Regions from separate parts of the Homo sapiens genome. Here region 2 is linked to region 1. Evidence: fine-mapped expression QTL. Tissue or cell type: whole blood. Region 1 holds a variant in brackets; the other region holds the start of a gene. All regions are shown on one strand. Distances are between the middles of the regions.

Evidence for each region. PIP is the estimated chance that this variant, and not a neighbour inherited with it, causes the effect.
Region 2: it holds the start of TSPYL4, and the variant in region 1 is fine-mapped to the expression of TSPYL4 in whole blood (INTERVAL, PIP 0.99). The same link has a PIP of 0.9 or more in breast and unexposed skin.

The regions. Positions count from the first base shown.
Region 1 is chr6:116,214,141-116,222,332 of GRCh38, forward strand. It overlaps NT5DC1 (5'-nucleotidase domain containing 1), which reads left to right. Exons shown (of 12, transcript NM_152729.3): 7 at 6,914-7,088. It also overlaps a transcript of COL10A1 not described here. Among named protein-coding and RNA genes, the nearest start is that of TSPYL4, 36 kb to the right of the region's middle. The variant T/C (reference allele first, on the strand shown) is at 3,783.
Region 2 is chr6:116,249,071-116,257,262 of GRCh38, forward strand. TSPYL4 (TSPY like 4) reads right to left here and starts at 5,005. Exons shown (of 1, transcript NM_021648.5): 1 at 894-5,005. The coding sequence starts at 4,938. The coding sequence ends at 3,694. NT5DC1 (5'-nucleotidase domain containing 1) reads left to right here. Exons shown (of 12, transcript NM_152729.3): 12 at 1-427. It also overlaps a transcript of DSE not described here. RefSeq lists enhancers at 4,577-4,736, 5,147-5,376.

The sequences.
Region 1 (8,192 bases):
GATTCAAACTTAGGCCATTTGACTCCAAAGTGTGTGCTTTTTCTACTTTACATGCAAGAGTATTGCTCTCAAGGCTCAGAAATGAAAGTGAATGTCAAATAGTACACTGAAAAAACATAAAACAGTTCATCAGGTCTTTATTCTCATATATATCCTTCTTATAAAGGAAATAAAAATAAATTCTATTTTACTTAAAAAGATTTTTACTTAAAATGTTTTTAAACACAGACACAGATTTGAGCATTTTTATCAGATAACGTTAAATATGCATAATCTGGTTTTGCACTTCTAGCCGAAATAGTGAGGACCATGTTCTGCTAGGAGAAAAAAGGCTTTCAAAAAGCTGTCTGGTTTTATAGGGGTATTCTACTGAAGTAATTCTCAAAGTGTGGTTCTTGGACTGTCAGTTGACCTGAGAAATTGTTAGAAATGCACATCTTCAGGCCCCACCCCAAACCTACTGAATCAGAAACTCTAGGAGTATTTTTGAAAGCATTCTGGATAATTCTAATTTACCTTCATTTTGAGACCCACTACTCTACCAAAAGTCTGTTTTTGAAATATCATATTCAAAATGCAAAGACATTTTAGAGGAGGAGAAACACTGTGGAAATGGGTGTTCATTGTGGCTAAAGAGTTATCTGTGTTGTGCACATGTACCCTAAAACTTAAAGTATAATAAAAAAAAAAAGAGTTATCTGGCTGGACATCACCATGGAGGCATAGACTCAAGCAACTCTAAGATTAAACGGTCCTTTGAAGCTGCCTGTTTCACAGGTTTGTAAATGTCTGATTGGCCAGTGTGTATCTCTGGGGCTCCACCAGAGGTCTCTAGGGTGGGGGGCATAGGAATTGTTAACATCATCATTCTCTGGACACACTTTCTTGTGAAAAGTGTCATCCAGAATAGAACCCAGTTATCAAGGTTTAGTCTGAAAATGATTAAAAGAGTGGAAATTATTGCTTTCCTGGTTCTGAACATTGTACTGATATTAATGTAGCTCTACAATCTAATCACCTAATTGGATAATACGGAGCACATGAAGATAAGATGCCTAGGGTTATAAAGGAGGACACATGCTTCTTACCCAGCTTTCTGGAGCAGAAATATTTTTCCAGAAACATGATATCAAAAGTACATAGTAGTAACTAAATAAATTGCAAAACATGGTCTCCAAACTTTTTATTTTACTTTGTCTATACTGTGGAGCCTAAGCTGACTGTAAGCTCTATATTTTGAAGTTGCTGACAAACAACAGCTCCTCCAATGTTATGCCTGTATGGCTGAGCTTTCAACCTGGTAAGATTTCATCTCTCCCTATGAAATTGTACCTCACTGAGTCACCTTGTCGACTTTACAGCCTGTCCAGATATTATTGTATGTGATTCTGTCATCAGATCCATCTGCTGACCCTCCCAGCTGTCAGCGTCCTCATTAAAGGATTTGTTATATTTTGAATAAAACCAGGCAGACCTTCAAAAACCTCTCTCCACATTTACGTTGTCTGTCCAGTAACCATGTCGGAAAGAGGAAACTAGGTTCTTTTAGAATGATTCATTCTGATATCATAGGAGAAAAAATAGGTTGTAAACTGATGGCAACAGGGGAGTTGACTAGGCCAAGTGCAGACAATATGGCGTGGTGGGATTGTGGGTAAACTATTACAATACATATGTAATACTGTCCAAGGACATTAACATCCAAAAATTTTAAAATACTGCCGACCCAAAATCATATTTATAGACTGTATTCAGCACAGAGTCAGGCAGTTTGATGGCTTTGGAGAGATAAAGGAGTCTGTTTGGCTTGTCTATACTCATTTAAACTGTTCGAATAATTTTTCTTTCAAAGAATTCCATAATATACACTTTTTCCAGGAATCCTCCTTTCAAAGGAGGAATGAAATCCATCATTCTGTATTCACAATACTTAACTAAATCTAGAGTACCATGCTTAATTGGTATAGTGTAAGAGTAAACACTTTAAAGATCATCAACCACAATGACATTTAAGATAATTGGCAACAGTTATTATTTGTTGATTACCTAACATGTACAAGGCTATATGTTAGGTAATAAAGATACTATAAAATTCAAAAGTCCCTGCCCTCTGAGAGCCTGTGATTTCCAATGAAGCAGGCAAAATACACAGAAAATAATAGTAAGAATTCTGGTTTTTATATTTTATATTTTATATTTTAGGTCAACAAGTCTTAATCCTGGTAGCACATTAGGACTACCTGGGAAGCTTTAAAAAAAAAAATACCAATGTTGTGGCCCTACCCCAAAACAATTAAATCAGAATTTTTGGAGTAGGGCCGGGATATGCAAATTAAATTACAGATCTGGAAATCAGATACTGTTAAAATGTAAATTTTGTATATTATGTTTTTCTCTCATATTCTGTACTTCATTTCCCAGCTTTTATTTGAGAGACTTTCCAAGTATTATGTTTAGCATATAGATTTTCACTTTACACAATCTAGATATTCTAGATTTATTTATTTAATTATAAAATATTAGATATAAACCATATATTTTGTTATATAAACAGCAAATCTGTTTTAATACATTTTAATTTTATTTTTTGCCACCTATAAATAAACAAAATAAATTTATCTCTTTTATCCTCCAACAAATATTTCAGTGTCTCTTAGCAAAGAAGTTTCTTCTTTTAAGAAAATTAATTATATCATCTCTACAGCAAGTACATTTAAACAGTTCATCGCTAGGCATTTTAGCTGTTCACTAGCGTGCTCTTATATAACTTGTAAAGGTTGTAAATATTTAAATCTCTTCTAAATTATATTCTGCAATGGAAACAACAGACCTTATTTGGAGGCTGACCATGGAAGTGTTAGCATCCTGGCATCTCTAGTCCCCTCGGACAGCAGCTTTGAAAATTCTGGCCAAAAATCATGCAAACAGTAGTGATACAGTTAACAAGAAAAAGCTTATTCAGTGATGATAGAAATAGTGATGTGGCACAATTGTCTGTTAAACTGAAAAAAACTGTTTTTAATATTCAGGTTGTACTATACTTTTTTACCACGAGAGGTCCCTATATCCTGTTTGGTGTATTCAGGCCATTTGATGTGCATATCAGACTGTTGCAACACTTTGGTATTATTTCTGTCACTCTACATTAACCAGTTTTTTTAACATAGGAGAGCTAAACTTTTATTCCTTAGAATCAGCTTATTAAAAGAATTTCCTTTAAATCTCATCTGGACCTAGAAAATATCAGCATCAAAGGATATAAGAGTGGTGGAAAAACCAGGAAAATAAGTTACATAAAGTGGCAGTGAAATAGAATTCCTTTGGAGGTTAAGTGAAAACACAGGCTTCTTTGTGAGTTAAGAACAAACAATACCACTCCTTTCCATCTTAGGTCTAAATTCCATTTTGTTCAATCAGTGTTAATTAGTATCATAATTAAACATGACTTTTTTCATAGGCTGCCTTAATCATACATGAATAATATTATTTTTATCACTTCAGTTTGGCTATATGGTACTAATCATACTCTTGCCTTGAATGTAAGGAAACATAAATGTTCCTGTGTCTGCTCCTGCACTAATTTAGGTATTCATATGTTGAATACTTGCTCCATGCCAAGCAGAAAGATATATTTCTTGCCTTTAGAAGTTTATAGTTTCTTTGGGGGATATAATTTAATAGACAATTATAATCCATTGTAGTATGTTTAACATAACTCTTCATTTGATTTAATACCTTGACTTATTTCAATAAAAAGATGTTTCTATTTGTATAATTATGTC[T/C]CCTATTCCTTTAATAATTGGAGGTTACAAGGGGGCAAAAATATTTTCTCCATGACAGTGATCTTTTGTAGTAAGAGCAACTCATAATCTACCATTGGGTATGTGTTTGTACAGGGCTTGTCTTTTTTAGTTTGTTCATTTCAGTCTGGCTTATGAACAAAACAAGGACATCTCTGTTATGACTTCAGAGAATAATTTTATCTGATTAAATTATTATATTGGTACTCTTTTGAATCAGACATTATTAATTGAGATACTAATGCAATTAACCTAGGTAAGAAATTTAAAATATTGTATTTAAATGCGTATGCCTTGTATTTTTATTCCTTTGGAAATGTTAACAGTAGCTTTTTAATGGTAATTTATATTTTGATCACTAGATGGCACTAAGCACATATAGCTAAGAAAAAATAATTTTTTCTCAAGTTTTCTGAAAGCAAGTCTATGTTTTCAGCATTACACACTATAAATTTTTTTCTTACGTAGCCCATAAAATTCTTCTTGCTACAAAAGCTTTGTTTTTCTAAGTGAAATAATCTCACATCTGACTCCCTTAGGTATAGTAAGTTACGAGAGAGACACAGCCTCTGAAATTAGCAGTCATCCACTCATCAAACTTCTCTATTCTTAGCCATTTAGATTTATTATTATCATCTGTTTCTTAAACTGACCTTTTCTTACTAGTACTTCCTCTTCCCTGGGAAACAGAGAATATATTTTAATTTTTTTAAAGGGCTATTATATAGCCTCTGGCATGTTAAAAATAGATCCTAGAGATTCACACACAGAAGTTCCTGTAGGGCAAAATATAAAAAGAGCAAAAACTTTGTTTTTGTTTTTGGTCTTCTAAATATTATTCTCATATTGCAAAATATTATTTCTTTTGTTAGTTTTGGTCTGGTTATGATATTCATGCAATATATTTTCTGAATCATGATGCTTTAAGTTGCAAATAATAAATAACCTTAATGTTTAAGCTATTACTAAATTGAGTTATTTTACACAACCAGAGGTTGTCCAGAAGTTGAATGGTACTTCCAGTGGTGGTTAGAGTTAGTCAGTGACTTAATCAGAAATCCAGTGGTGGCCAGGCACAGTGGCTCATGCCTGTAATCACAGCACTTTCAGAGGCCCGAGGTGGGAGGATCACTTGAGCCCAGGAGTTTAAGGCTGCAGTAAGTCATGATCGTGCCACACTGCACTCCAGTCTGGCCAACAGAGCGAGACCCTGTCTCAAAAACAGAAACAAAAGCAGAAACCCAGTGATGTCATCAGGGACCCAGGTTTGTTTCCTTTCATATGTCCACTCCGCCATCTCTGGTATATCAGACTCGTGCTTTGTGTTGATGATAACCGCTGCAGTTCTACATAGAATTTATAATCATGGGAAAGTCCAGTAGTAGAAGAGGGGATATTCCCCCCTTTATAGGTTTATTTTTATCAGTGGTATACATTACTTCAGGATCCTGCAGCAAAGTTCTCCTCAGGTCTCATTTGCCATGCCTGGGTCCCCAGCACTTCCTAAACAATTCAATGACAGGAGGAGGGAATAACTGTGATAGGTGTAGACTGATAGAGACCCTTGCCCTTCCTAGCATCACAGACCCCCTCAGAGGAAGATGAAACCCGAAACAATATCAGAGCACTCCCCAGCAAAGAGGGAGATGGATGTGGGGAGGCAGACCACAATATTTGCTACCGTTTTTTGTTTTTATTTGTTCGTTTTTGTTTCACTTAAAGACTCTTCTTCCTGGCCAGGCATGGTGGCTCATGCCTGTAATCCCAGCACTTTGGGAGGCAGAGTGGGCGGATTGTGAGGTCAAGAGATCAAGACCATTAGACCATTCTGGCAAACATGGTGAAACCCCGTCTCTACTAAAAATACAGAAGTTAGCTGGGCGTGGTGGCACACGCCTGTAGTCCCAGCTACTAGGGAGGCTAAGGCAGGAGAATCACTTGAACCCGGGAGGCGGAGGTTGCAGTTAGCCAGAGATCATGCCACTGCACTCCAGCTTGGTGACAGAGTGAGACTCTGTCTCAAAAAAAAAAAAAAAAAAAAAAACAACTCTTCTTCCTGATGTCCTGATATTCTTGAAATATAACTGCCAAGTATTTCAAGTGTTTCACACTGGAGAGAGTCACGGATGTATCCCATATCTAGCTATTGCAGACTCTATCATTCAGTACAAGCTGTTTAACCTTTTTTTTTTTTTTTTTTTTTTTGTCTATGCATGTGTCCTTTTCCTAACAATTAGAGAAAGTAAAATCTTGAATCCTTTTTATCTGCTTACTAGTTCTATCATGCTCTGAGAACAGTATGTGTTATGAATCTAGTAACATTTCAACTAAATCTGCAATTGCCTGCTAAGTACCCACAACTTTAAAGGCATTGGGTCAAGCACTATGGGTAAGTCTGGTCAGGACATCTGGAAACACTGCCACCATCTGCCCTGGAGCTCAGCCAGACCCCGTGGCCACTCTAAAGGGGCAGAGCAAGCAACCCCGCTTCAGTGATGCGAGTCATTCATTGTTCCCTGTCAAATACAGTGCCTTTTGGCCTGTTCTGGCCTATTTTGCACCGATTTTTCCATTTTGATATCTCAGCACTTCTCAGAGGCTATAGAATGGCTCCCCTAGTATAGATTCCATCTGAAATAGCAAACTGTGACTCTGAGGAACTCATCGCCCTTCTTGGCTATTTATGCAAAAGATGTGATCCTGGTGCAATATCTGAGTGTTGATTTGTTTCTTGTCTGTATTCAGCAAATATTCATTGAATAATTAAAAGAGTATTTGTAACAATTGATATTTCAAATGTAAGGTTTTCTCTTACAGCATTTGAAAATGCTGATCATATTGTGTTTCTTGTGTTACCTGTTTTAACAGTTTATCAGTTCTTGTCAAATAGCCAGCGAATATTATCAACTAACATTTTCAAACAATATTGTGTTTTCAAGTAAAGAACTATTCTTAAAAAGCAAGTAGTATTGGCATAATTGCTAGGTCGGTCAAACCTTGTTCTTATCCTTTTAGTTTTATCTATAGATTTGAAAGAGATTAACTTGTTAGAGAATATATTTAGTCAAAAAATGTTTAAAAAGAAAAACCTCATTGATATTTTTATTTTTCAGAAAACTGTGGAATATATTTTCCAGAAATAAAAAGAGATCCAGGCAGATATTTACATAGTTGTCCTGAATCTGTGAAAAAATGGCTTCGACAGCTAAAGAATGCTGGGAAAATTCTTCTGTTAATTACCAGTTCTCACAGTGATTACTGTAGACTTCTCTGCGAATATATTCTTGGGTGAGTGATGAGTCATTCAGTTTTCATTGTCTTATGAAATACAGATAGCAAATTAGACCAGGGCTTTTTTAAAAGTGTCAGCCATGACCATATCATTATTTTAAACAATGCTGAGTGACAAGTTGATTTTTTTTCTCATGACATACCTCAATCTCTGCTGACAGCAGCCCAACCAAGTACATTTTAGCAAAGCAGTGTTATTGGGGACCAGTATGCTCATAGCTCACCGAATGTCCAGGTTTTAGGTTTTCTAGAAGGTGGTAAACTGTATATCCTTCAGTTTTCCATGAATTTGGTTTCTCATCTTTGGACGATGATTGAGGGACTCTGAGTTGTAGGTTATACTCCTCCACAGATACCTGGAGTACAGCCACTCTTTAGTCATTTCCGTGCGGAGCCATGTATTTTACTGTTTAACACAGCCATGATGGGATTGAATTCATGAGAATGAAGGCAGTATAATTGCATAGACTTTAAAGTAAGACAGACTTGATTTCAAGCCCCGCTCTGCAGTTTACTGTATTACCTGGGGCAGGTTTTATAACCTCTTTAAGCTTCAATTTTGCCGTCATAAAAATGGTACAGTAATTCCTTGTGGGTATGAGGGGATATTTAAATAGCATAATACAGGTAGAGAATTAGACAGGAATAGTTGATAGACTTCAGTGTGTAAATACTTATTCTTGTGGGAAATACCAGGAAATGTCTATGGTCAAAGCGAGATTCTACCTGAGTCATTAGGTCTCCCCTAATGTTTCCTCAAATTCCATCAAATACCGAATTGCCATGAGTATGGAGCAAGTTTGAGCCTTAAAACCTACCTTCACCAGCCCTTTTAGCATCATGATTTCCATGTTCCTTAGCATGTGTGGCTTTAGTTTCTTCTATGGTATGCTTAGAATCTGTGAGTAGAATTCCTGCTTTCTGAATAATATACAGGCTGATACATAATAATGCATCTTTTGGGTGAATTAAGGCTAAAGTCCTGGATGTCTTAGAAGGTGCCTCTCATAGAGACATTTGCTATCCTAGTAGTGGGCCCATGCTTTAAAATGAACAATCTGGATTTTAATTCCTTTTTTATTAGCATAGATAACCATAGTC
Region 2 (8,192 bases), 35 kb after region 1:
GCTGACAATGCAGAAATCAATCACTGAACTGAAAAGGTAAAATGAACATTGTTAGAGGAATTTAGGATTAAGATGGATGTAGAGCTTGCAAAAGAAAACCTAGCTCTCTAATACTTAAAGTTCTCTAGCCCTAGAAAAAAATACCTCAGCAAGAAATTGCAAGTAATAATTGCACCAAGAGTCAGCATCTATTTTAACTGTATGTTTAATTAAGTTTCTAACTCAAATGAGAAATTTTGGGCCATTTTTGTCAAATTTTTGCTTAGATGGCTACAAATACTTAGCAATTCATTTTCATAGATTTTGTAGCATCCACAAAGCCCTCCTTACTGCAGAGAATGCAGAGGTATTTATCCAATAAACTTTCATGTAATTGCTGCTATACAGCAAAACTATCATTACCGGTAATTAAAGTTGTGATACCTGATATCATTTGTCTCTAGACATTTTATTTCATATTTTCTTGGTATTCTTTTTAAAGCCACACATTGGTGTAAGAAAAGAATGTTAAGTAGCACTGACAGAATACACAATAATTAATTCTTCCAAAAGTCTATCTTAAGCTTATTAGATCTCGGAAGGCACAGTTAATAATAAATGTAATGAACAAGGATGCTGCATAGACAAGTTTTCCACTGAAAACAGTATTTTAAGTGATACTATATGGTGCTTCAATTACCACCAAAAACTGCACTGGTTATGTAGAAAAAATAATGCTCATGAGTATGCAGTTGCAGTTGGGCTCCCATTTACCATTTTTCAGGTGAAAAATCTTGGAAGGTTTGGTGGCTGTTGCCTTTTTTTTTTTTTTAAACTTTCAGGATGATAGTTACTGGTATCATTTGATAACTTTAATGATTTCCCAACCTTAAATTAACCTAGACAACACAGAATTTTTTAAATTATTTTTATTTTTTGATGAAAACAAGAAATACGGTAGTGACACTTTATTTTTCCTTCAAGCACATGGGAGAAGACAAAAGTACTAAATGATCATTGAGTTTGACAGAGAAATTCTACTGGTACTTACACTGCTTAGGAACATAAATGTCAAGTACATTACTAGGGCAAGAAATATCAAGTAAGACAACAGAGTCGTATTTTTCTTTTTGAGGTTATTTTCACAAGACATAGCTATAATTTGTAAAATATTCAGACTATTGAAAGATCACATTCAAATTATATTTCTAAGAATAGAGCCATATATGAACAGAGAGCAAAACAAGCTAATACATTAATGAATATTCACTGAATTCTTCATACTGCACAGGACACAAATTTGGTATTTTTGCACATGTTGTCAATTATAAGCAAAAAGCAGGCCTGTAAACATCAATTTTGTCATAGGCTGAAACAGAGAAAGGAAATGGATTTTACTCAAAAACAGTGACATAAGGAGCATATACCATTAATCTTCCACACATATAAAGGTCACTCCTAGGATAATTGAGAGAAAACATCGACTTACATTTTGTTTACAAAAATCTACTGGTGAATTCAAGGACTTAGGAAAAATTGAAGGAAAATCTTCCTCCAAGCATGCTATTTAAACCCCAGCCCCTCTTCCCTGGAGAGCACCTCAGGGGCCTCCCCTCCCACCCCTGATCCTGCAGGTTCTTTCCTGTGAGCCTTTCCAAACCCACGCCACAGCAGGCTCATTCCTGCTCTGGACTTTTACTCAGTTTCCCAACCTAGATTAACCTCTCCACTGTGTGTGTTCAGACCTCCTAAACCCTCAGGTAGCTTAGGGCAAGGCCTTCAAAACCAAAGGGGAAAAGGGTGATGGTGGATGGTCTTTATCACCACACATGATCATAACTAAGCCTTGACGGCATCACTGTCCCACCTACTGGAACTTGTCCGTGAAAATCCACACAGATGCTGCACATCCCCTTATCCCCTACAAGGAGGCTGGAGATCTTCCACAATGCAGGCTGCAGCCTGCTTCTTCATTTGTTAGGAGCAGGGAAGGAAATGCAGAAGCTGAGAAATGAGGGCCAAGAAAGCCAGGCAGTAGGATGGAGACCCAAGGGACATCAGGGCAGAAACAAAATAGTACAAAGGAGAAGAGTGACCTACAAAATGCTACCCTAGAAGCAGTCCAAGGCCCAAAAAAGAATTTCCATCTTTAGAAAAGTGGAGTGAGGCTAAGTTTTGGTTGCCTTTGCTCACATCACAAAGGCCTTTGCCTTTGACCCGTCCTGAACCCATCACTGTGAGGCCCTTCTCTCTCTTTCCAGCTTCTCAAACTAAAAACTCAAGAAATACACAGGTTTTGGTAGAATGGATGGGGTAAAAAGATAAATATGTCAAAATCTGCCTAATTTAACACTGCCTATAACTAAACAATTAACCTATAGGTCTCCCTTTGAAACTTTCAGACCTTGCTAAAAGAAGTGGGGTGGAGGAATAAGGGCAATAAGAGATCTGGAGCCCATTTAATCATAACCTTTCTCTCTGAACACAATCAGGGAAAGAGCAAATTAAACAAAAAGCCTGCTTTGCCAGTTTTGTTTTCTGTTAATAAGCTAAAACTGCTTCAGAGTGAAAGGGAAGAAAAGGGATGGGAGGGAGAGGGGGAGGGAGAGGGGAGGAGGAGGGAGAGAAAGAGACAGAGGCATAACAAGTCTCACATTCCAGAAATATCTCTTCCTCAATGCCCCAACTCTGGCAACTTTTGTCATGTTCAGAGTGGGTGCAGGCGGGGAAAAGAGGAAATGCCTAAAGAAGTTGCTCACATTAAGGATGGTTTGTTGGCTAGGAGTCAGAAAGACTAAGCTGGAAGGGACTGCGTTCCAGCCTTGCTTTGGGCTCTGTCACATATTACTGCCCATCCTGGTGGTAGGGGGTGTTGCTGTGAGCTCCCTGGGAGCTACGTCTACAGATAGTTCCTGATGAGGCAGACAATGGTGGCCTAAGCAAAGTTCAACCAGAAGGTGAGAGTGAGTAGGGGTGGGCTATAGCACAGGCTTCATACTCACCAGCAGCTGGTCATGACGTAGAGTAACCAAAGGTACAGGAAAACCAATGTGATAACATAGAACACTTTTCATCTATTACCTCAGTCACGCCTAGCAGTCACCCATCAGCCACCAGCTTGTTCTATCAGATAACCAGTAGGGTGGATGGCACAAGCCCAGGAAGGCAGCTGGGATCCAGTTGGTGGTAGTCTGGAATGTCCAATTTGGGTTGATGGCCGGGTTAAGATATCAGTTTTGTCTTGCAGTGGTAATACCCAAATAGCTTACCATAAGTACATGGGTATCAGGACACAGCCAGCATAAAGTATGAAGCCCAATCAGTTATTTGTGAAAATGTATCAAGATTCTTTGTGGTACAGAACCACTTAAATTGGGAGAAGAGCATGGTCACAGATAGGGTCCAAGCCATGCAAAGAAAGGCAGTATGGTACACTATATCTATAGTATCATACGCTTGGCATAGAAGCCGTAGAAGGCCATGCACTTGAAACATGTTAACACAATGCAGAAAAGCATGAAGGCCCAGAGGAAGAATGGCACAGGCAGGTAAGCCAACAATCTTGCAACCGATTACTGAAGATTTAGAACCAAAGGAAAAGATAATCCACAGTATGAAGAGAAAGCAGATGGAAGACTGCATGCTGTTGGCCAAGCATAGGTCCAAGAGGAGGTGGTAAGGAAACTTGTGCAGAAGCTTCTCACAGGACAGAGATTAGCCAGACTGGAACCTGAAGGATCTGGCGCTCTCCACTGGCTGCCTTGGTGGGCCTCGAATTCCTCTACGGGGCCCTTCACCCATCAGGTAGTATTGTAGGGGATTGGGCCACAGTTCTCCTTTGATAATCTCTGCAATTCTGTCGAATTCTAGAAGGCTGTGGTCTGAAAACCAGTTGAAGAAACTAGGGATAGTGTTCCCTTCCCGGTTTCTGTGGATATGAGCCTGGGGGTCTTGGCCTCGGTGCCAGCGGATTGGAGTGGAAAGAGACACCACCCGGCCAGAGGATCTGCGTTCATATTCCTTGACAAGCCCCTCATTTCGGAAGTAGGGGTTGCCCTGAAAGATGAACTTGAATTTGCAGCCTGCTCTGGGGTGTTTAAGCTCCTCCACCTCCAAATTGATCATGTACCTCAGCATGTCTTCATCTTGGCCACTGATCATAGGTGACAGCTGGGGGTGGTTTCGAAAGGCAGTAACCCAGAAACCTGGGATATTCTGGATAATGAAACTTCTGCGCTGCATGTGGAGCCTTCGCATGCGGCCAAACTTGCGCTCAAGCTGAAGGAAGGCCCTGTCAGCCTGGGCATTTACGTTTGACAACTCTTGATCGATGGCCTCCAGTGAGTCCATGCAGTTATTGATCTTCGGGGCCCTGGGCCGTGTCTCCTCTTTCACCCCTCCTGCCACCTTTTTTTCCTTCTGCACTACCTTCTTTTCCTCCATCGCCGCCCCTGCTTCTCCCTCCTTTTCCACTGCTGCCGAGATGGCGCGTTTTTTAGTCGTCACTTCCTTGGCCTTCTTCCCCGGTATCATCTGAGACCCCAAGCCCCCTGCGCCACAGGCTTCTAGAGCCTTCTGCCCAGCAGGGCCACGGGGCTCTCCAAGCTGACAGCCATTTTTCTGGCTGCTGTCAGCAGCCTCGGCGGCAGAGGCTGCTTCCAGACCTTTCGTAGAAGGTGGAGCATCCTCCTGCCCGGCTTTGGTCGCTGCACCGCCGCGACTCCCGGCAACTGGGACGCGGAGCGCGGGGCCACAGTCGACAGGATCCTGGGATGCACCCCCCTCCGCAACGGTCTCCAGGCTGCCCCCACCTGTGTTCGCCATCACCTGTGTCGCCTCGGTTTCTTCACGGAGCCCTTGGCACTGGTCTCGGTCCGGATCTCCTGAGGCATGGTCGGGAGCAGCCAGGCCGCCGGTTTGGGCGAGAGGGAGCTTGTTGCCCCCATCCAGGCCGCTCATTTTGGAAGAAGTCAGACTAGTGGGAGAGGGAGAGTTCCTTGTCCTCCGCAGCGGCCGAGCTCTGCCCGAAACGTCTAGCACCACCCCTCCTTTACTCTCGGCGGTGCTACCATGGCAACTGGTGATGTCAGGGCGGTAGCGTCGTAACATCGCGCGAGAACTCTCTGCGCGGTTGACTACGCTTATCAATCCATCGTATTCCTTTGTCTTCTTGTCACAAAAAGAATTTCGTCAGTCTGGAAGGGGAGTTTTACTTACGTAAATGGATGTAGACCAGACTCAAGCATGTAAGAACTGTGTTAATGTGGATTTCTAAGCCTCTGAATGAATTTCTAAGGCACCTAACCTATTGTTTCTGAAAATATTTACTTTAAGGTGAGTTACTGTCTATTCAAGTCAGTTCATAGGGCTTCTCCTGAGTAGGAAAGTGGATTCACGAACTCACAGGCCTTCCTTCTTTTAAGGTGTGGATTCATGGCTATTACCAAAGAATTTAAATGAGCAGAGTTTGATTTTAAAGAGAAGTGTTGCTGTGTTGTTATTTTTAAAATTAAGGAGCAGCTGAAAGGCAAACTTCTCTCATCCTAACAAGACATAATAAAGGAATATTTCAATTTGTCTTACAGATTTTAAAGTTTATATAATTTGGCCAACATCTACAAAACAAGTGGACAATATTTCCTCTTCACTTTTAACAAAGAGTAGCAAAATGTTTTTCCTTACGTAGAGGTGACTGGCACACGAGCACAAATTTAGGCTTTTAAGCATTACTGAAAGAAATATCTCAGGGGATTTTAATTTCTAAACTGATGCATATGTTCTTTTCCTCAGGTTACAATCTTAATCTAAAAGTGGTTCCTGCTTCATAATGCCTGTGGACATGAAGCTAACAAATCTTTTCAAAATGTGTTCATGTGGTAATTCACTGCAGCACAGGAGCAATAATCAGCTATGTGCAGGCATCTATGCTACTGTCTCTTAAAATACTTTAAAAGTAAGGTTAGTTATTGTCTATTCGAGTCAGTTAGCTCTTACAATTCATTTGATAGTGATTATCAGTACAATATATTAGTTTGTTGGAGTGTGAGAATAATGGTGTTAATCCTTAGAAAAATGCAAGACCAAAGGGAAATTTAAATTTTGCATATTTATGTTTAATGTCAAATTTATATTCAAATAAACGGTTATGATTATAACTCTTTGTAAAAGAAACTCCATTTTAAGCCCCCCAGATTATGATCACTTTCAAATACAGGCTCAGAAGTACAGATTTAGAGAAAAAGGATTCCTCTTAGAGGAATACATCATATATACTGAGACTTCTAGCGAGGGAAGGAGTGTAGTTCTGGTTCAACTAAGATAAAGTACTGATGAAAGGTCACTGGCAGACAATACGGAGAAACAGCCTGCCTTGCAGGATTTTTTGTATGCCTAGTCAGCCTACCCAAGGACAATGTGTCCAGAATGACCTCTTTACTGCCTGCCAGCTAATCAGTTATCCCATAAGAAATATGCAAACAAGATTCACACAGCAGAGAGCAATTATTTTTCTCTCCCTCTTTCCTCTTTGTCTTAATAAACGCTCTTTTTTTATTTGTGGGGTGAAATCAATCTATTGAGGTATCGTCTTTGTAAACACATAAACAGCGTGCTATAATTGACTTTGTGACTTTGAATTATTGACACTGCTCTGTTTCTTTTCCAAAGAACCTTTGCACTGTTGAAAGAGTAACTTTTCCATTATAACCTGAGTCAAGATGAAGAGAAGCAGGGAATACTGAATGAAAGTTACTTTTCCATGCAGCAGGAAAAAACAAGTTTGCTACTATACAAATTTATAGAAAAGTATAAAATTACATGTGAACTTCTTTTTCTTTTTGTGTGTGCCAAAGTTTTTTAAAGATTTATATCTCTACTACTCAAAGCATTCCCATCTCTAGCCTGTATTAGTTCTGTCACCTGAATCATTTTTCACTCATAACCACCTGGCCATTCTTTAACACTCAGTTCATGTAGATTGTACTAGGCAGTTTAAATACATTAGATTTTATAAACAAAGACCCAGTGAGCACAGAGCAGTTAACATGCCCATGGTCACATATGTATTAATTGGCAGATTGCCTCCTCCCACCTTATTACTTTACCTCCTTCCTTAATTACTTGCCATTTTGACAGTCTTCTGATTTCTGTATAGCCCTTATGACTTTTACTATCCAACTTAGTACAGTTACGTTTCACTGAATGACAGGGATTTTGTCATTATGGAAACATCATACAGTACATCTATCAAACCTAGCTGCAATAGCCTACTATACACCTAAGCTAAATAGTATATCATATTGCTCCTAGGCTACAAACCTGAACAGCATGTTGCTGTACTGAATACTGTAGGCACTTGTAACATAATGGTAAGCATTTTTGTATCTAAACATAAGAATGATACAGTAAAAATAGAGTATTACAATTGTATGGTCCCACACTTGTATATGCAGTTCATCTTTGACCAAAATGTTATGCAGCAAATGACCGTACTTATTTATCCTCTACTTTTTAACTTTATTGGTTGTTTCATTAAGGTCAGTTTTATCCCAGCTAGATAATGACTGCATAGCAGCTTCTGTAGCATCTACGACAGTATAGTCCAGTTACTATCTCATAGAATGTTTTAATGAATCTTGATTATTTAAGTGAAAATTTAAATTTAAATAAAAATTTTAAAAAATTTTACCAAAATGAATAGTATGACTACCCTTGTGTTTCATTTTGAGGTGGGTGGATATATAATAGTAGCTATGAGTTATATTTTACATTTTTTGCACATTAGAATAATATATATTTTGTACACAGTAAAGTCTATTCTACTGGAAATTGGCAATAAACCTTACTAAGCAGAAAAAACTACATCAGTGACTTATGATTCTATGGGAAAATATCGATAGAAAATGCCATGAAAATCTATGAGGTAATTTTTATTTGCAAGGAGAAAAGATATTTAATGGAAGTTCAAACATAAATTAATACAGTCAAACAGGAATGACTTTACTAAAGTATAAAGATTGGAAAATTTGTGAAATATCCCCTATTGTTACATCTTTGACCAGCAGTTTCTTTTTCAGAATGATATAGTTTCTGGTTCATTATTTAGTGTTTTCTATATACCATATACTTTTATGTGCTTAAATGTGTATCTCATTTAATTTTTACAAGGACCCTGTGAGGTGATATTATGACCTCCCCTTCCCTATGCCTCAGAA